4 linked regions of the Homo sapiens genome follow. The protein of the gene in region 3 purifies or fractionates together with the protein of the main gene of each other region. This does not show direct contact. Each region holds a gene or a part of one and is shown on either strand. Other genes may lie near its edges.

What was found. Proteins that work in one complex are often made in the same cells at the same time.
Region 1: the proteins of LYZL1 (region 3) and EOGT purify together in Homo sapiens (affinity purification with mass spectrometry; 2 studies listed by BioGRID and IntAct, with this or other methods). This does not show direct contact.
Region 2: the proteins of LYZL1 (region 3) and POGLUT1 purify together in Homo sapiens (affinity purification with mass spectrometry; 2 studies listed by BioGRID and IntAct, with this or other methods). This does not show direct contact.
Region 4: the proteins of LYZL1 (region 3) and GALNT18 purify together in Homo sapiens (affinity purification with mass spectrometry; 2 studies listed by BioGRID and IntAct, with this or other methods). This does not show direct contact.

The regions. Positions count from the first base shown.
Region 1 is NC_000003.12:68,986,185-68,989,684, forward strand, and holds part of EOGT (EGF domain-specific O-linked N-acetylglucosamine transferase isoform a precursor), read right to left. Parts: intron 2,834-3,500; coding exon 2,741-2,833; intron 2,394-2,740; coding exon 2,322-2,393; intron 2,198-2,321; coding exon 2,111-2,197; intron 1,330-2,110; coding exon 1,261-1,329; intron 1-1,260.
Region 2 is NC_000003.12:119,475,463-119,478,962, forward strand, and holds part of POGLUT1 (protein O-glucosyltransferase 1 precursor), read left to right. Parts: intron 1-1,850; coding exon 1,851-1,986; intron 1,987-2,871; exon of another isoform or gene 2,872-3,012; intron 3,013-3,500. UniProt on the Homo sapiens protein: Dual specificity glycosyltransferase that catalyzes the transfer of glucose and xylose from UDP-glucose and UDP-xylose, respectively, to a serine residue found in the consensus sequence of C-X-S-X-P-C.
Region 3 is NC_000010.11:29,292,070-29,295,569, reverse strand, and holds part of LYZL1 (lysozyme-like protein 1 precursor), read right to left. Parts: intron 3,052-3,500; coding exon 2,893-3,051; intron 1-2,892.
Region 4 is NC_000011.10:11,619,206-11,623,411, forward strand, and holds the start of GALNT18 (polypeptide N-acetylgalactosaminyltransferase 18), read right to left. Parts: upstream 2,801-4,206; 5' UTR 2,389-2,800; coding exon 2,154-2,388; intron 1-2,153. UniProt on the Homo sapiens protein: Catalyzes the initial reaction in O-linked oligosaccharide biosynthesis, the transfer of an N-acetyl-D-galactosamine (GalNAc) residue from UDP-GalNAc to a serine or threonine residue on the protein receptor.

The DNA of each region.
Region 1 (3,500 bases), on a different chromosome or scaffold from region 3:
TATACTGGGCTCACGTGGATGATCCAAGATAATCTTCTTACTTTAAGGCCAGTTGGTTGGGGACCTTAATTCCATCTGCAACCTTACTTTCCCTATGCCATGTAACCTAACCTGTTCACAGATTCCAGGGATTTGGATGTGGACATCCTTTGGGAGGAGCAGGAAGAGACATTATTCTACCAACAACGCCCTGCTTTAAAACTTCACAATGGCTTTCCCCTACACTGGAATAAAATCCCTCTCCCACCAAGGTCTAGGAGGCTGATACGATCTGTGGCCCCCTGCACCATGCCTGACCTCTTGGATATCGCCCCACCTCTCTCAAGATGCTACAGTCATATTGGTATTCTGTTTCTAGAATACTGAAAGCTCAGTCCACTAGAATACATTTGACTCTGCCCGAGAGGCTCTCTCCCTTGCTAGATTCTTCTCTGATTAGGTCTTTGAATGCCCTCATGTGAGTACAAACCCCCATCCATCCACATCCCCAGTCTCTATGACATCACCCTGGTTCATCCTTCAAAGCACTTATCACTGCCTGACATCACCGTACTTATTGACGTTTTCACTTACTTCTTATCTGTCTCTCACCTCTACGGTGTAAGCTCCATGAGGTCAGGCACCTTCCCCGTCTTTGCTCTACTCTATCTCCAGGGCCTAGAACATGGCCTGACACATAGCAGGTGCTCAATTAACTATTGTAGAATAAATTCTTACTACTGAGAGGCTATCTTCAGGCCATGATGTTGTAGGTAGTGGCCTTGCATGGTGATCTCATTGAGGTTAAATGTAATTTATGAGTTGGTGCTACTGAAATGAGTAAGGATGCTGAAAATGCAGTTTCTAAGACATGGTCATGTAAGAGGACAGAGATTCTTCCAACTAAATCTGCTGCTGATACCACAGGATTAATGGCCTCAACCATCTGTTGCATCAACTATGCAAAAGAAAGTCTTACATTTTTGCTACTTGTCTGTCCGGATGCCCTCTACTGCAGTCAAGGCAAGATTCTGACAGCTTTTTCCATGCTGAGTTGATGCAGATGAAATTTACTATAAGGCAAAGCTAGTTTGTCTATGGGTGGTTTGGTGAATCTCACTAGAAATTCAAATCTAATAAATAAACCGGGCATAGGCCATCAAACTTTTCTCAAAACTAAGTTTTAAACCAAAGCTTTTAACGTAATGTGAAAAAAAAAAAAACACAATTTGCTCTATGAATTGAATATGAAGGCATTAAAAATGCATACCAAAAACTAACCTCATTTTGGTTAAGGATTTTCCGGTATTCTGTGCTCCGTGCAAGAATGGTGACTCGAATTTTTCCATCCTGTAATCAAAATGAAACGGTAAAATAACACTGCATATGCCTGGGTAGATGAATGAACATCTGAACCCAAAATGTGATTTTCACAAAGAGATGAAACTCAACCAGGATACATTAATAGAACTCTTCTTTTTTAGCTTGATTCCTTCACCACTCTCAGGGAATAAAAATGTATCCACTTCAACCACCGAAGGCAAAAACCAGCTCATTACATTGTCTGTTTGGTTGGGTGGGTGAATTTTTTGGCAGGGGTTGTGTATGTTACATGAACATTTGGGGAGGTGAGGGAGATATAACCAATGAAGGGGGAAAGGAGGACAGGAGGAAGCACATTCTTGTAATATCCCTTAGCTTCTCTTTTATAGGTTTTTGACACCTGGTTTCAGATGACTCCAGGTCAGAAAATGTTTTTGGGTTTTGTTTTGGGGCAGTCTTGCTCTGTCGCCCAGGCGGGAGTGCAGTGACATGATCTTGGCTCACTGCAGCCTCTGCCTCCTGGGTTCAAGCGATTCTCATGCCCCAGCCTCCTGAGTAGCTGGGACTACAGGCACATGCCACCTCGTCCAGCTAATTTTTGTATTTTTTGCAGAGATGGGGTTTTGCCATGTTGGCCAGGCTGGTCTTGAAATCCTGGACTCAAGTGATCCACCTGCCTTGGCCTCCCCAGAAAATGTTAACACAAAAACATGGTCTCCTGATTATTTCTGTTTCTGAAAAGGTGGTATCGATTTTTATTAGGGAAGAAAACTCAAGCCCACCTCAGAATCCGCAGTGTATCCATTACCTTAGGTCCTTCTTGTGTGATGTTTAGTCTGTGTAGTACATGCTGGGCAAATGCCCTGAATAGTCCAGTATTTTGACAGCCAGATATCTAAAATAAAAACACTGGTTCATATTACAATGAATACTTCTGTATTATAATTTAAGATACTGTCAACTTATGTATAAATGTTATGTCTGTAAATATGAATGCTAATGGTAGACAATGTGCTTACCAGAGGAGTATTATAGAACAGCCCATACCTCATGCGGGGGAGTAATGAAAAAACAGCTTCTTTAAAACATACCTAAGAACAAAGATACATTAAAAGAAGATGTAATTTGCACCCTTCACACCAAAAATAGCACGTATAATTTTGAGAAATAGATTTTAATTAATCTCCATTTTGCATTGCTTGAATAGCACACTATTTCATTCAAAGAGAACAGAATTCATATTTTTGGAAAGATTATAGAAAAAACTTTTCAAAGGCTGCATGATTAACAACACTGAGGATTCTAATTATAAAAGAAATTCAGAAATTCAGAAATCAGTGGTAATGGCTAATAGGAACTCATAATAAATGTTTATTTTATGAGTGAGTCATCTGCACTCAAGAAATATTCACAGACATTTCAGGAAAATTTCCAGTACCCTTTTGGAATCATAAGTTTTCAAATGTATAACGTCATAATCAGTAAATGCATTCCATGTGTCGGAGAATAGGTCACCATATCCGTAAGAACTCTGAAAGTAGAAACAAAACAAGGTTTTAGGGCAATAAAAGGATATAACATGACTTTTCAAAGATGCAACAAAATACCTGAATTTGCCTGTGTTAAAAACTAACAATCCTACGCAAGTTCATAAAATCCATACAAGCAAAATGGATCTTCATCTTGGGCCAGAGCAAATGCCTAATTTGATGAAATATCATCAGAAATAATTATCACAATTATACTCTTAGCCATTAATAGTGTTTCATTTTTCTACCTTAACTTCTTTTATTCTCACATCTTTGTAGTTCAGGGCTTTTTCCTGTGAACATCTTATCCAAATTATAGATACACACAACACACACTATGCCACCGTTTACACACACTCTTATGCTCAGTGTGCAAAAACCATCAGGGTGAATGAAAAATCTTTGGAAAAAAATTTCAGAGCAAGAAAATGGGTTCAAAGTTTTAACACTGGCTGGGTGCGGTGGCTCACAGCTGTAATCCCAGCACTTTGGGAGGCCGAGGCGGGCAGATCACCTGAGGTCAGGAGTTTGAGACCAGCCTGACCAATATGATGAAACCCCATCTCTACTAAAAATACAAAAATTAGCCAGGCATGGTGGCATGTGCTTATAATCCCAGCTACTCGGGAGGCTGAGACAGGAGAATCACTTGAACCTGGGAGGCGGGGG
Region 2 (3,500 bases), on a different chromosome or scaffold from region 3:
ATGTAGGCTAAATTCCTAAAAGTATAATAACTAGGGCAATTAATGTCATTTTAAAATCTTGATAAATAGGCTGGGTGAGGTGGCTCACGCCTGTTATCCCAGCACTTTGGATGGCTGAGACAGGCAGATCATCTGAGGTCAGGAGTTCAAGACCAGCCTGGCCAACATGGTGAGAACCTATCTCTACTAAAAATAAAAAAATTAGCTGGGCATGGTGGCCTGTGCCTGTAATCCTAGCTACTCGGGAGGCTGAGGCAGGAGAATCACTTGAAACCCGAGGTGGAGGTTGCAGTCAGCTGAGATTGCGCCATTGCACTCCAGCCTGGGCCACAGAGCAAGGCTCCATCTCAAAAAAAAAAAAAAATCTTGATAAACAGGCTGGGCACAGTGGCTCTCACCTGTAATCCCAGCACTTTGGGAGGCTGAGGTGGGAGGATCACTTGAGCCCAAGAGTTCAAGATCAGTCTGGACAACATACCAAGACTGTCTCTCCACACACACACACACACACACACACACACACACACACACAAACACATACAGAGTTGCCAGGTGTGTTGGCACACACCTGTAGTCCCAGCTACTCAGGAGGCTGAGGTGAGAAGATTGCTTGAGCCTAGGATTTTTGAGGCCACAGTGAGCCATGATCATGCCACTGCACTCTTCAGCCTGAGTGGCAGAGCGAGAGACCCTGCCTCAAATAAAAAAAACCTTAAAAAAAGAGAAATCTTGGTAAATAGAATCTAATTGTCCTACAAAGAGGCTAAACACTTCCACAACCGATATATCATATGCTGTGAATAGATCTCACACCCTTACCAACACTGCACTATTGGACTTTTTGATCTTTGCCAATCTGATTGGTAAAATTGGTATCTAGTTTCATTGACATTTCTTTATTATTAATACAGTTGAGCATCTTTTCCTATGTTTGTGAACTGTTGATATTTTTTGCAGTTATCTCCCTATATAAAAAACACTTTTTTTTTTTTTGGCTAGAGGAGCTCACTACATTGCCTACTGTGTCACTATGTTGCTGGTCTAGAACTCTTGGGCTCAAATAACCCTTCTGCCTAAGTCTCCCAAGTAGTAAAACAATATTTTAAATCAGTTATTTCCATGCTGCCAGAAAATTTTGATCAAGCCTTTGAATATTGCCCCTAGCATAGTGCTGGTCAGGACCTCAGAGGATGAGGCAGAAACAAGCTAAACTGTCAGTGTATCTTCTTTTTCTTTCAAGAAATCCCTGATTTCCCAGGGAATCTAGTCAGAAAGCTGTGTTACACTATTTATGATTATGTATATAACACTTTTTCTGGCTTGCAGAACTGATTTTGATAATGTTCTTTATTCAGGTTGAAGGTAATGAAAGGTTTTCTATCTGTTCTCATAAACTAGGAGACTTAATTATAATGGAAATAAAAATGGTGTCTTTGTGAGGAGCAAAGCCAAAGGAACACAGGTGGAAAATTAGCTATTTCAGCTATTACGAGAGTTTGTATCTTGTCTACTAATTAAACTATTCCATATAAGGGAAATAAAGAAAAGAACTGGAATGAATAAAGTGGTAGAAGTAGCAATAATACTCCCTTCAAAGCTATGACGATTTATTTGGAAAATTTTATTAAGTATTGTAAGCTGGAGCAGCTTAGCTATGAGTGAACTTGCACAATACAAAAAAGCAGAATAGCCCCTTTAGAAGCATTGTTTTCAGGAGACTTTGCAGTAGACTGATGATATGGAACACTGGAACACTGGCTTGTCTTACTTTAAAATGTGAATGGGACCTCGCCTTGTCCTAGAGCCTGCAGGCACTACTCTGCTGAATTTATGGTATGTCTGGTTGACAGGTGTAGTGGTGTTGAGCACTTTATTTTGGAAGTGATCGGGCGTCTCCCTGACATGGAGATGGTGATCAATGTACGAGATTATCCTCAGGTTCCTAAATGGATGGAGCCTGCCATCCCAGTCTTCTCCTTCAGTAAGGTAAGTACAGGGAGAGCCACATGGGTGGATGGAGAGTGGTCCTCTAGGATATGAGCATGAGATCTTTGTCCGGTGACATAGTCTGATGGATAATGGTAAGGATGAGGACTGAGGTCCAGAAATGGGTCTGTGTCTCTATTAGCATCACAGTGATTGAGCAAAAAGACAGAGGAGATGAAGTTGAGAGCTGGTAAGTAGTGTAAGATTGCTTGAGTGTCTATAGGGCTAGAGATGGAGGCTAGGGCGTGAGAGGCCTGAGAAACCTACAGGAATTAGAGGTGGGTCTTGAAGATCTTACAGAGCATGGGAGGAAGGGGTCCAAGAAAGCTTGGAGTTAGGGAACACCTTCATTCCAAAAGTTTGTTGAGCTCCTACTATGTATATATTCAGCCATAGTGCTGGGTATCAGCTGTCCCATCTGTCACCATATTCCGGGGGCCCAGGGTGGCTAAAAGTGAACCTGAAGGTGCCAGATAACTCCACACGGTGTGTGTACAAGCCGTGCATTGAAGGGATAGGCTGGAGATAGCCTAGAGGGCTATGCAAGGGGGTGATCTTTTAGACTCATCATGGAAGATTGGAGTAGCTAGGATACACCTGTGGGCTTGGGGAATTGGGGGCAAGGAATGTCTTGTCAGTGCTCAGGTTCATGTAAATGTTGTATCGGCAGGGATGGGCCTTGGTTCCCTAGAGACAAGGAAAGCATTTGGGGGTGAAGGCAGGAAGGCTAGAAGAGAGTGGATGGAAGATTCTATGGGGTAAGAGTGAATTGAGGAAAACCCCATGAAATTTGGGAAAAGGAACACTATTTCTGATTTGGTTTGTCTAAAGCAGAGGGACCTTTTATCCCCACTTTTTCTTTATCATAGTTTACTTTCTCCCTAGACTTGTTTTATTTCCTGTGTTGCAAGTGGGCAGAGGCCACATTTGTGTTGCATTTCCCATGGTCTAGCCTCATTTCTCGAAAGTGTTTGGTTCCATTGTTTGTCATGAAACTCACTCAGAAGAACAGATAGAGGCTCCCATGTAAGTCAGTAGGGACTTCGTGTTTGTTATCTATCTGTTGTTTCTATGGATAATAAAGTATGACCGTCGGTATACTAACTTTCCGTTCATCTTTACTTCCCTTCTGTTTTTTAAATCAGTGACTTCTAGTTTCCAAGGGAGAGTTTTACTCTGTCAACTTTATAGTTAATTGTGCAGCTTCTATTGAATAGCTGTTATGTTTAAGGTGCTTGATGAATCACATTTTTTACATATTTGAGAGACAGCAAACAGCATATTGCACATGTATTTCCAGTGGAAGAAATAGTAGAGTTAGAGGTTTATCAGTGGCCAGATTTTTAACAGAAGTAACCATAAAAAGGGAACAAATGGAGGCCAGGTGTAGTGGCTCACACCTGTAATCCCAGCACTTTGGGAGGCCGAGGCAGGTGGATCAAAAAAAAAAAAAAAAGGGGGGAACATATGGCTTTAAACTTTTTTCTTTTTTTTGAGGCAGAGTCTCACTCTGT
Region 3 (3,500 bases):
AGATTAGAGAGTGGACATTTGGAAGCTGGGGACTCAGCCCACCATGGGAGGTAAATGCACACATTTAATCCTCATATTTAACTGAAAGACTCCATTGGTGAGCTCTTAGGGAATGCTAATAAGATTGACTGGGACAGAGAAGGGTTCAAAAGTCATGCCTATGGAAAGTGAATATACTGAATGTTTTAGCTCAGAAGATAAGAAACCAGAGATGAGAGGTACTTATAAATCATTTGCATACAGTTAATAAGTTTTTATGTGTAACATAAAGCAAACTTGTTTTGAATAAACCCAGAAGGAAAAACTAGGATTGATATAGAAGGTTAGAAGAAGACAGATTTTGGCCTAACAAAGGAATGTTCTAAATTAAGGGCTGACCAACAATCGGGAGATCTATCTCAGGAGGTAGTGATCATTCTTTATCAATGTTAGGGTAGGGACAATATACTAGGTAACTTAACATATTATTCAGTCATTCAAACATTCAAACCCATATACTGATTATCTTGTACAATAGTTCCCCCTTATCTGCAGTTTCATTTTCCAAGTTTTCATTTACACTCAGCAGTGGTTGGTTAGTTTTATCAATGTAACATATTTTGAGAGTCAGAGAGAAGGTGCTTACATATTTTTATTACAGTATATTGTTATAATTATCCCATTATTATTGATTGTTAACATCTTACTGTACCTAATTTATAACTTACACTTTGTCATTGGTATCTATGTACAGGAAAAATCATAGTATATACAGGGTTAGGTATTATCTGCAGTTTCAGGCATCAGCTGGGGGTCTTGGGATGTATCTCCCTTCAATAAGGAGAGGACTCCTGGATGTGGCAAAGAGAAGTTAAAACGGTTTATTTTCTGCTCTGAAAGAATTTGCAATAGAATATTTTATGACTCTCTGACTTCACTCTTGTTCCTCATTCTCTCCATTTATTCAATAAACATTTATTGAGCTCCTGCAATGGCCAGGCACCATTCTAGACATTGAGGATACATCAGTGAATGAAACAGAACTCTCTGCCCTCAAGGGACTTACACTCTAGAGGCAGCACAGAGAAAATGCCTTTGACTGAGCTCTGCCCTCTGCCTGTTCAGCATCTCTTGCATCAGTCTTCTCCATGTCACCAACCATGACCATCATTCAGTCTTTTTATGGCACTTAGCTCAATAACTGTGGTGACACTTAAATGGTCTCTGCTTTAATCTATCCCACACCCTGCTTGCAGATTGATCTTGCTGAAGCAATGCTTAATTAACTGACCTCTCTTGGTTTCCTCTTGCAGGCAGAAATCAGTGAAAGCCTCTTAGCCTGGGTTTTTCACACTCAGATGGTCGTTAGCCTCTCCACCTGCCTTCCCTGGGATTCTCTTCATGTCACTTTGTTACAGAAAAAACAAGCCTCTCCCTACTCTCTGTTCATGCTTCACACCTTCCCACAGGCACCTCTTTGCTTTTGCTCTTCCCCTGGCCTGGGATAACTTTTCTCTATCTCTACCCAAATCTTCCCTATCTTCTAAGTCTCGGGTCAAATATCACTGTGTTTACAGAATTTTCCATGATTTTCTTTTTTTCTTTCTTTTTTTTTTTGAGACAGAGTCTTTCTCTGTCACCCAGGCTGGAGTAGAATGGTGCAATCTCGGCTCACTGCAACCTCCACCTCCCGGGTTCAAGCAATTCTCCCGCTTCAGCCTCCCGAGTAGCTGGGATTACAGGCACCTACCACCGTGCCCAGCTAATTTTTGTATTATTTAGTAGAGATGGGGTTTCACCGTGTTGGTCAGGCTGGTCTTGAACTCCTGACCTCAGGTTATCTACCTGCCTCGGCCTCCCAAAGTGCTGGGATTACAGGCATGAGCCACTGTGCCTGGCTCCATGGTTTTCTTAATACTGTCACTTTCCTCTGAAGCCCATGGCACTCAGCGCACTCCTCCTTACATGATTTAACTTCATGTAAGCACATATTCTCTTTTCTTGTCATGTCACATGAAAGTTCGGTAAAGCAGAATTCATGCCTGATGTATTTTGTTATCCTCAATGCTGTGCTCATATGTATTTCTGGAATGACTAAAGTAGAAGACATGAAAGTAAATTCTAGCTTAATTTCTAATGTTTAAGACATGTGGCTAGCTAAATATACTGGCCCACACCAATAACTATAGCACTCTGAGAGGCCGAGGCAGGAGAATCTCCTTAGGCCAGGAGTTCAAGACCAGCCCAGGTGGGACCCCATAACGGGACTCCATAGCCAGACTCTGTCTCTACAAAAAAATTACAAAATAGCCGGGCGTGTGCCTATAGTTCTAGCTACCCAGAGGAGGGAGGATCACTTGGGGCCTGGAGGTCAAGACTGCAATGAGCTATGATCACATCACTGCATTCCAGCCTAGGCAACAGAGTGAGACCCTGTCTCAAAAAAAAAAAAAAAAGAAAAAAGAAAAGAAAAGAAAAAAAAAGAAAGAAAAGAAAAAGGGAAAAGAAAAGAAAGAAACCTAAAGTGTATTCATCTCATTCTGCACTAAGAAGTACAAACTGCATCCTCTGAGCGAATTGCTTATGGAAAGCAGCTGGCAGGCAGCTTCCTTTTTCTTACTGAAGACATCAAATATCTCTAACATGAAAGGGCAGTAGGGTTGTTTGTCCATCCACCTGCTTTAGTGGGGGCTTCATAAAACTGTCTACAAGGAATAAGTCATCTTTGGAGAAGTCAGCCACAGGATCCTGAGTGTCACCTTGGAAACTGTTGCATAATTTACCAATCTGGAACAGACCTATTTGCAAGCCTGAACTCCAAATTTTAGTTAAAGCAAGACATGGTTGGTGATCCCATTGTCGGCTTTCTCGCCTAGTCCTGAGGATGGCATCACTGGAAAGTCAGAGCCTCACCTGAGCAGGCGACATGGCAGTGGTTGTTCTCCTTCAGCTTTCCGCGTCTGCACCACGCGAAGCTGTTGATCTGGAAGATGCCATAGTCGATGCTGCCGTCATCCAGGACCGTCTGGGCTGTGGTGTTGTAGCCGCTCTCATAATATGCCATGCAGATCCCTGGAGGGGGGAAAGCCAGAAACGCCAGCAAAGGAAGTGCATCTTTTGCTCTAAGCTTGGTCTGAGGGCGAGTTTCCTTATCCTTGTTACCTGACTGCTTCCTCCCAATACACCTTGGGCAGGGCAGGGCGGGCATGCGCCCAGGGGGCACACGAGGGGCACATCGGGGGCTGGGATGGCACACCTGAAGCTGTACACCCAGTCAGGGGCTGAGCCTAATCTAGACCAACAGTCAGGTCCCCCCACTCCCCACAATGCCAGCAGAGGTGGCATTATTTTCCCCTTCCCTGGCTAGTGTCATAAGGACAGGACTCCAGGAATAAGGAAATGAGGGGCAGGGGAGGAAGGAGAGGAGACCCAGAGAGCCACAGTTAGGCTAGCAGCCACCCCTGAGTGCGGTGAGGGCAGAGCAGGGGTAGTTGGGAAGACACAGCAGGGAGTGTGGCCAG
Region 4 (4,206 bases), on a different chromosome or scaffold from region 3:
TGGCCCTCTGTCGAGATTGTGGTTATTTCTGAATACCCACAGGGGTCATTGCACGTGTACAAGTGGAACAACACGTGTTTTAGGGACCCTGTCTCCTATTTTTTTAACCTATCTTCTCCAATTTTTCAGGTATAGATTTGAAAGTGCTGAACAACACATAGTTATAAAGTTTCCGGGGAGAAAAATCACAATGCTTCCTTTCAACTTCAACATCATGCTTTTCCATGTGGAACCTTAGAAATCATGTGACATGGTCCACATTCCACATGACTGGCACCCACTCCGTTACAGGCTCAGGGGTTAATGGCATCCCCTGAAAGCATCCCCAAAGCAGTACCTTGCTCACCTCCTGCCTGACCAGAAAGAAAAGCACAAGAGAATCATTTTCCAGGAACACACACACACACAGAATCTGTGAATGAAAATCTCAAAATCTGTCGGCAAACTAGAAATGTCAAAGTAAGGCATGGCTTTGTGTCTCCTGGGGAACATTCTGAATCACCCTGGGGGAAACACTGTACTTCTATTGCTGATTAATAGTCAATCAAGACCTATGGGATGGAAAAGGACACGTAAGAAATAACAGCAACTGGCACCCACAGATAGGTAAATTGGTTTTCAAGCCCAGTGCCAGGTTGAGAGGCAGAGGCAGGTCTGAAGAAGAAGCTGTCAATGTCCCTCTTTTCTGGGAAGGTGCCGAAGCCATGGGCTTGTTTTGAAGTCATTAGTCAGGAAGCACTATGGATGTGGATGCCTCTCCTGCACTCACCTGAACCTCCCTGAACCTTCCCCTCCTGGAAAGGAACTATTCTGGACACCTGGGGAAACACCAAATTCAGACGGAGGAGCCATCTCTACTCTGGCAAGAGCAGCAGGTGCAAGGATTGGAATTCAGACATCCACGTGTAAACAAAAGGGAGTGCTCCTGGCGGGGGGGTGGGGGGTAAGCCTTCAGTTCAATTCGATTTTGCCAAGGTCTGCCATGCACTGGCCCCTGAGCCTGGTGGGCCTGCTAGGTTTACAGGGGAACCAAGCTCGGCCCTGCCCTTAAGAAGCTCACACACCTGGAAGAAAGCAGGGGGCGCGGGGAGGGGAGGAAGTGTGGACGTGAGCGCGCGCGCGCGCGCGTGTGTGTGTGTGTGTGCACACCCGGCACCAGTGCTCCTGGCGCCCGGAACTCCATTCCCTCCCATGACAGCTCATTGACCAGGTCGCCTCGGGAGAGCGCCCTGCAACCCCCACCCTCCCTTTGGACCCCCGCGCTGGTCTGGAGCGCACCCAACCAGCGTAACCTTACACTTCAGACCCAACCCAGGTCTGCTCAGCCCCGGCTGCTCCCAGGGCCTGAGAGTGGAGCTACAGTAGGGATCGGCCTTCACCCGGTCCCGGGCGGCTCCGCGGGGAAGGCGCAGCCCAGGGCGTGTTCTTCCAGTCTTGGGCGGAGTCATCACCACAGTGGACAGAGACTCCAGCGCTACTTCCCGGCGTTGACACCTGCTCCTGGAGAGGGTCCTGGACCCGCGGGCTGTGGTGGGGGTAGGGACTGCTATAGGTTCAAGCGGCTTTTCAACCACAGAGGGCTCCTTGCATTCCCTATCGCCTACCAACGGGATCACAGCAAGACTGGGGCTGGGGCTGATACAACGCAATTTTCCTAGCCTCGCTTGTCCGGCAGCCTGCGGGTCTTAACTGCCAATAGTCAGGGCCGCCGCGCGGGCATCTCGCCTGACGCCTACAGTGGCCAAAAAAGCTCGTTTGCCCGCGCGTTCCCTCTTGTACACACACAGACATTCACATGCACACACACTCTGAGCCGGACTTGTGTGCGATCCCGAGAGCCCGCGAGCAACCAGCCCAGAGTCACACGCACATTTGGACACGTGCGCAGCGCGCCCCCATACCGCCAGCTAGCTGCACACATCCGCTCGTGCAGCCCTGCGCACACACGTGTGCCCCGGGGAAGAGCGCACGGCCGCAGACAGAAGGTCCCGAACGCAGGCAGGAGCTCACACGCAGGCCCCACGACTACCACGCATCTGCGGCCCCAGAGCCCCGCCGTGGCTGAGTTGATGCGCACCAGCCCCAGCGCACCCCGCGCCGCGCGGGGCACTCCCGGGCCTCATGGGCGACCCAAGTTTCCGGGGCGCCCGTACCTTGAATGTGCTGCTTGATGACATTCTCCAGGTGGTCCAGCCGCTCAATAATCTTCAGAGTGTCCCCTTTGTCTTCCTCCAGCTTCTTGTCGGGCGCCGGCTCCTGCCCCCGCACATACACGCTGGCGATGTAGTTGGTGACCCAGCCCACGTAGAGCAGGCAGATGATGTTAGTCATGCCGCTCAGGATCACGCAAGTGGACACCAAAGTTTTGGTCTTCCTGGTGCACACCATTCTGGGCTCCTTCCTCCATATAGAGCTCCCGGGGGCCCTTCCTTGTCGTGCGCCCCGAACTCCCCCGCGCTCGCACCCCGTAGCACGTCCGGAGCCGCTGGGCACCTCAGCACCTGAGTCCCGAGGTTCTCCAAAGCCCGGTCCGCTGCCGGTGTAGCCGCCGTGCCCAAGTTTGCAGCTCCTGCCGCTGGCCACCCGGAGAGACCTTGACAAAGGAAACCAGGTGGATTTTTTTCCAAATTAAAAATCCCTGAACCCTTCCTAGAGGGGTCACGGGTAGCCGGCAGCCGCGCGTCCAGATGTGTACGTCTGGGAAACTTTGCCACTGCCTGTGTCGGCGGCCACGCCGCTTCCCATCGCCAGCGCCGGCTGCCTTGGCGGTCCGACCGGCCCGCGCTGCTAGGAGAACAGCGGCAGCGGCAGCGGCGGCGGGGAGAGCCGCGAAGCAGAGCGGCCCGGCCCCCTCCGAGCGACAAGCGCTGCCACCAATCGCGCTCCGGCTCGGGAGAGGGGCCGGTGCTGAGCGGCAGCGGACCAACGGGGAGGGAGCGGGGGGCGGAGTCCAGCTCCCAGGCCCCACCTGCTGGCCGCCCCTGGCTCCCGCCCCCAGGGACGCGCCCGGGCCTCCACCCGCGCCTGCACAGGCTGCCCCAGACCTGAAGCTCCCGGAGAGGGCGCGCTGCCAGTCCCAGCCCTTAGGTCGGCAGCTTCCTCCGTTAGGGGAATTCCATCTCTTGCTCTTGGGCAGGAATCTCCTGGTTTTGTGGAGGGGGTGGGGGGTTCGCACGGGTCAGCTTCTTTCATCCGCCCGGGGCTTCTCGCATTGGTGCCACCAGTCGACTCCTGGAATCTTTTCTTGGTTGCCAGGACGCTGAGAAGCCAAGGAAGTGCCAGCCCCAGCGGCATCCACTCCTTCCTTGGCCTCACTTGGGCCTCCACCCTGCCCTCTGCCCTTCAGCCACCGGCCTCCTGAGTGTGTCCAGACCTGGCCCTAAACCTGGCTGAAAGGAGCCAACCCTCCGGCAACCTCCCAGAAGCAACATTGGTGACCTATTAGATGACTCTCTCGACCACTTCTTCCCCCCCCCCACCCCCCACCCCCCACCCCCACCGCCTGCCCCAATTTTTGCCCCTATCTAGGTTTTTCTTTAAGTCTGTACAGCTCCCAGGACATGGATGTGTCCTTTAAGCCCAGTTTTCATTTATGTGGAACCAGGGTCATCCAGTGCATAAAGAAACCCTGCAAGGAAGTGCCGCTGAGGGGAACTGAGGTCTGTGAACTGTAAAGCCCTTCTACATGTTGTTTATGATTGCTATCATAGAGGGCGGTGGGAGAGACCTGTGACTGAGCACAGGAGGAGGCCAGACGCAGACAGTGATACTGCTGTGTTTGTTCTTACTGCCAATGTTTACTCATATTATCCTCTTCTGCTGAACACCCCGTTCTCAGCACCTGAACGGAATTCCTTTAAACAAAGACTTTTTACAACATAGATTTCCTGCCTCTTCTCCATCTCTGAGTTGCTTTATTTTTTTGGCCTAAGCCAGGGAGGCAGCCTGCTGCATGCCCACTTTGTTGTGTGCCAGCCTTCCAACCAGCCACAGAAATACTCAGGGCAGCTCCATCCTGGGATATCTTCTGGATTCAAATGACTGGCCCCACAAGAGAGGGAGAGCACAAAACCAAAGAAAGGGCACTTTATGGCCCCATCAGCCAAGGGCCCTTCTACCAATGCTTTGTTTACAAAACCTCCCCAAAGATGCTATGAAAACAGATACCAACTAGGGACCCGGGAAGATTTCCCTTGATCCATAGCT